Linked DNA regions of Homo sapiens: region 2 is linked to region 1. Evidence: fine-mapped expression QTL. A gene starts in region 1. The other region holds a variant in brackets. All regions are shown on one strand. Distances are between the middles of the regions.

Evidence for each region.
Region 2: its variant is fine-mapped to the expression of ADAM33 in thyroid (GTEx, PIP above 0.99).

What each region holds. Positions count from the first base shown.
Region 1 is chr20:3,680,592-3,683,493 of GRCh38, forward strand. ADAM33 (ADAM metallopeptidase domain 33) reads right to left here and starts at 1,419. Exons shown (of 22, transcript NM_025220.5): 1 at 1,317-1,419. The coding sequence starts at 1,413. RefSeq lists an enhancer at 844-1,737.
Region 2 is chr20:3,653,567-3,656,468 of GRCh38, forward strand. No RefSeq gene overlaps it. Among named protein-coding and RNA genes, the nearest start is that of GFRA4, 8.4 kb to the right of the region's middle. The variant CAA/C (reference allele first, on the strand shown) is at 1,357.

The DNA of each region.
Region 1 (2,902 bases):
TGGAAAGGAGGCTAGAGGGGCCAGTGCAGGGAGGGCTCTGAGTGGATGTGGGGGAGGGGAAGGAGGGGAGGTCTCTCAGCCCAGAGAGCACTTAACTGAGAGTAGAGAACCAAGCTTTGCTGCTCCTAGGCCTCTAAGGGTTTGGGGAAGAGGTAGGGTGGGCCCGGGCACAGGTGTGGTGTGGGTGCAGTGTGGTGTGTGGGTGCTGTCCACATGGCCTTGCGCGCACGTGCTGGCCACGGGCACCCTGACCCCAATGAGGGAGAGAGGGGCAGAGCTGGAGCTGGAGCTGGAGCTCCGGTGACCGGGTGAATGGGGGTGGAACCCGAGGGAGCCAGGCTGGTATTGGGCACATAGACGCCCCTCTCCCAGGGGTCCCATCACCTCCCCTGACCCCAGGATAGGGCTCAGAGGGGAGGGAGCAGTGGACCGCCTGGGGCCCTCCCCTGGGGCCAGAACAGACCAGGCCCCTGTACCTGTTTGGTCCCCACACAGTGCTGTGGAAGCCACCGCCCAGTCTGCATAGCACAGCCCAGCCCCGCATGCCCCCTCCCTGGTTGCCCTCCCTGTTCCCGGCCAGGCACTTGCTGTGCAGGACTGGCTAATCCTCCCACCCGCTTGCAGAGGTTGTTCCAGCCCCATCTTAACATCTTTGTTTGGAGGGGTTACCCCGAGGAGACAGCTGCAGTCTTCCCAGAGCACTGCTAAACAGACACCTTCTATCTGGAGAGGCCCTTCTCTATCTCACCAAACAAGGCAACAATATAAACAACATACACACTGCCCTGCTGCCCTGGGAGGAGGGACGAGGGGTGAGCAGGGTGGAGGCCACAGCTAGTTCTGCAGCCTGAGAGCAAAGCAGGGACTCTGGGGGACTCTTGGGCATGGGGGCTTCCTAGAGGACGGAGCCCCGCTGAGTCCTAAGGGGTGGAGGAGCAGGAGCGGGTCACACGGTGGCCTGCGGATGGAAGCTGGTTGTGAGAGCGAGAATCCAGGAAGAGGGGGCTACGGCTATGGGCTGGGGGCTGGGCTGCCCCCGAGGGGGAGGGAGCCATGCCCTCTGCTTTGCCAGCGGAGTGGCAGCCGGGCAGTGTGGGCAAGTCCGGGCCCGGGGCCAGCCCAAGCACACTTGAGCGTCCCTGGGCAGGTCCCACGGAGACCCCCCCAAAGAGTCCCCACGCCCTGACCTACTGGCCGTATGGTGCCGGGGCCGTGAGACCCTCCGCGCGCTGACCCGAGCTCTGAGCAGAACCCATCCCCGCCACCACCACCGCGCCTAGCCTGCCCCTCAGGGCGCACCCCGCCCGCGTCCTCACCTTGAAGCACCCCGGCGCCTGGCACTGGCCAGAGCAGCAGCAGTAGTAGCAGCAGCAGCAACGGGGTCCCCCGAGCTCTCCGGGGCCTCCAGCCCATAGCTGTGAGCTCCTCGGCCTCTAGGCAGCGGCTCGCAACTCCGGCTCCGCCCAGGCTGGATTGCGGCCGACCCGTGCCCGGTGCAGCCTCAGGCCGCCGCCTTCGGACCTTCCCGCCCCCACCTCCCACCGCCCGCCCTCGCTCCCGCCTCCCCTCCCCGCCAACCCCGCTCGGAGCCTGGCCAGGGGCCCCGACGGCGCGCGCCATGGGGGAGCCGGGTCGCCACTCCCGGACCGCCGCCCCTCGAGGGGGTGGAGCTGGGCGGAGGAGGGAATCCGTGCGGCCCCTCGGATGACCGGCCCGAGCCGTCCCTCCCCGTCGGTCTCAGAGGGCCTCTACTCCTGAGAGGAGGAGAGAACCGCTGGGAAGGTTCTTGGAGGACCGCGGCGTGGTGGGATGAGGCGGTGGGCAAAGGCCGCCTCTCGCTGCTGAAGTTGGCCCCAGGAGCGCGATCTTCCGTGGTCTCCTGGGGCCGATCTCTGTCCCCTCCTTGCTACCCGTCCTGCCCCGAGGGTGCCCTGGCGGAGGTTGAGTCGGGTCATCCACCTGCACTGGGTGCCCCCAAGGATAGGAAGGTTCAGGCAACCGGCTGCCGCTGTCTTGGGGGCTTCATTGCTGGGCAAAGGCGATGCAGCAGACGGAGACAACCTTTCTTCCCTGGCGGTGGCCAGAGGGCAGAATTGCATAAAAGCTGCAGACTCCCAGGCCTGGGAGACCCTTTCGGCCTCAGTAACATCTGTTTCATGTTTTAAACTTTTGTTTTCCTACTCGGTGCAAATTTGGATGAGATGTTAACTTTTTTTTTTTTTTTTTTTTTGAGATGGAGTCTCCCTCTGTCGCCAGGCTGGAGTGCAGCGGCGCGATCTTGGCTCACTGCAACCTCCGACTCCCTGGTTCAAGCGATTCTCCTGCCTCAGCCTCCCGAGTAGCTGGGACTACAGGCGCGCGCTACCACCCCCAGCTAACTTTTGTATTTTTAGCAGAGACGAGGTTTCACCATTTTGGCCAGGATGGTCTCAATCTCCTGATCTCGTGATCCACCCGCCTCGGCCTCTCAAAGCGCTGGGATTACAGGCATGAGCCACCGCGCCCGGCCGGAGATGTTAACTTTTAAGCAAATCTTTTTTTTTTTTTTTTTTTTTTGAGACAGAGTTTCTCTCTTGTTACCCAGACTGGAGTGCAATGGCATGATCTGGGCTCACTGCAACCTCTGCCTCCCAGATTCAAGTGATTCTTCTGCCTCAGCCTCCCGAGTAGCTGGGATTACAGGCATTCGCCACCACGCCTGGCTAATTTTGTATTTTTAGTAGAGATGGGGTTTCTCCATGTTGGTCAGGCTGGTCTCGAACTCCCGACCTCAGGTGATCTGCCCGCCTCGGCCTCCCAAAGCGCTGGAATTACAGGCGTGAGACACCGCACCCAGCCTACTTTTAAGTAAATCTATTTGTTTTTGAGAATTTGGAATGTAGTAATTTGGTTAGTGAAAGTT
Region 2 (2,902 bases), 27 kb before region 1:
CGTGGCATCTACCCAGATGCCTTGGGACCAGCCCTCACCAATGATGTGTCATTTCAAGGCCATTCACAGTAACAGTGTCTCCTCCACTGTCTCCATCAACCTTGAAGGCTTATGGTGAAGATGGTAATACAACAGGATTGAAGGAGACTGGGTCCCTGAATGACTTTGTGGAACAGAGCACTATAGGCCAAAGGTAGTAGAATTAGGTATCTTGTTTTATGCTGCTTAAGTGAATTAATTAATTCTCTAGATTTATTCACCTAGTTATTCAACAAATTTTTATTGAGCACATCAGGGCTAGGGCATTGTGTCAGGATCAGAGATTTTGCAATGAACAAAACAGAAAACTCCATGTCCTCCAGGGGAGTTGATAATAAAATGTCAGATAAGCTCTGTGAAGAAAGGTAAAAGTAGGGTTAGGGGTAGAAAGTGCTGGGGGGATTGCTACTTAACATAGTGTGGCCAGGGGAAGCCATTCTGCTAAGGTGACAGCTGAGCAGAACGATGAGTGGAGGGGGCAGGAAGGAATGTGGAGGTCTGGGAGAAGAGCATTCCAAACAGGGATGGCAGGTGCAGAGGCCCTGAGGGGGCAGCATGCCTGGTAGGCCTGCTGGATATTTCTGAGAATGAAAAAGTCCATTCCCAGTTGTTTGCGTGGAGAACCTAACCCAGTTATAAACACAAAGTACTTGAGAGCTGGTTTAATATACAGCCAGCTTTCCAGCAGTGCAACTACTGTGTACATCAAGGGAAAACTGAACTTCGTTTTCCTTAAAACTTATCATCAGCTGGTCATCATTTTGACAAATTCTGTCAACAACAGCAGTGTCATTCCTGGCATCTGTATGGGTCACGTCTGAACAGACACACGCCCTGCAGCCCTGCAGGTACCAGCTGTATAACAAGAACTCCCTTCCACCCTGTGTCCTGGAAACAAGAAAGCCATAGACCGGAAGATCCCGATGGCTATCTCAAATGTGCTGGATGGAGTTGCCAGGGCCCACTGGCATGCCCTGTAAGCCTTTCCTTCCACGTTTGGTTCCTGCCCCTTGAAGACTCCATTTCTGAGTTTGTGTGTGTTTTACTTTCTAGTGTGTGTCCTCATCTTAATTTTTCTCTCTCTCTTCTGCCTTGAACTGAAGGTTCGCTTGGGTGTGGAGAGACAGGCCCCCAGCAGAGCAGCTTCCCGAGACATCCTCCGATCCAGGGCTTCCCAGCAGCCCGGCAAGGCAGGGCTGTGCCTTTCTGCTTCAGCTCACAAGCATGCCAGGCTCACTGGCAAGCTGCTGTCTGGTTGAGAGACTGCTCCTAAAGCCCTGCACAGCCCCTGTCCTCCTGGCCCTCTGGAAATTCCAC[CAA/C]CCCGTGTCCACATTTCATGCAAAAATGAGCTGGTTCTGTGAGCATGGCCCGGCCTGACTCGCTTAGTGGGCGGTAAGTGGTTTCCACTTCAACCTTGCACCTAATCACCGGGCTCCACACCAGGATGGACATTCATGAGCCGTGAAGTTTCCAGTAATAAATCCACAGATGCTTCCAGCACCTGCCTTTTCGCATCACCTCCACTCCCAGCCACCTGCCAGGCAACAGGTAACAGAGACCCAGTCACAGGAGGGCAGTGTGGGGGCAGGACTGCAGTCTCCCAAAGCCCATGCACAAAACCGACAGCGCCCTGGCAGGACAAGGAGGCTGACATTCAGATGTGGAGGAACAACGCATGACCCATTCCTGGTCATGGGGGCCACAGCTGGACTCAGCCTTGAGGCTTGGCCAGACTTAACACCGTGTATAAACCAGGACCTTTTTAGGTAGAGTAATGGAAACCAAACTCTAATGATCTTAGACAGTGCTATTAGTCTCCTGGAGCTGCCAGAACAAATTACCGCAACTTCAGTGTCTTGAAACAAGAGAAACTGATTCTCACAGTTCTGGAGACCAGAAGTCTGAAATGCAGGTGTTGCCAGGGCTGTAGTCTCTGGAGACTCTAGGGGAATCTGTGCCTACCTCCTCCAGCTTCCAGTGGCTCCTGACATTCCTTGGCTTGTGGCTGCATCACCCCAATCCCTATCTCTGTCTTCCCCTGGTCTTTTGCTCAAAATGTCTGTGTTTAGTTTCCCTGTAGACACCTCTGCATCACTCTCATGAGATGCAGAGGTGCGACATACAGGTGTTGAGAGCCCACTTAGATAATCCAGGATAAGCTCCTCTCAAGATCTGTAACTTGGCTGGGTGCAGTGTCTCACGCCTGTAATCCCAGCACTTTGGGAGGCCAAGGCGGGAGGTTCACTTGAGGTCAGGAGTTGGAGAACAGCCTGGGCACCATGGGGAGACCCTGTCTCTACTAAAAATAGCCAGGCGTGGTGGCACACACCTGTGGTCCCAGCTACTCAGGAGGCTGAGGTAGGAGGATTGCTTGAGCCTGGGAGTTTGAGGCTGCAGTGGGCTATGACTGCACCACTGAATTCCAGCTTGGGTGACAGAGTGAGACTGTCAAAAAAAAAAAAAAAAACATAAAACATAACTTAAATCACATCTCTTGCCACAGAAAGTAATACTCTTTTGCCTACATATAAGGTAATATTTACAGGATCCAGGGGTTAGGATGTGGACATATCTTTGGGACCACTGACAGCCATGAAGCAATCTCATAATTTTCAAATAGGTTCTGTCCTTTTTATCTTTCCAGTCTTTTGGAAAGCATATGCCTATATTTTCAATCCACAATTCTATTTTTATTTGAGGTCATTTCATTTCTGGTTTTTATTTTTTATTGAGACAGGGTCTCACTCTGTCACAGGCTGGAATACACTAGCACAATCATGGCTCACTGCAGCCAACTTCTGGGCTGAAGTGATCCTCCAGCCTCAGCCTCCTGAGTAGCTGGAACTACAGACACACATCACCA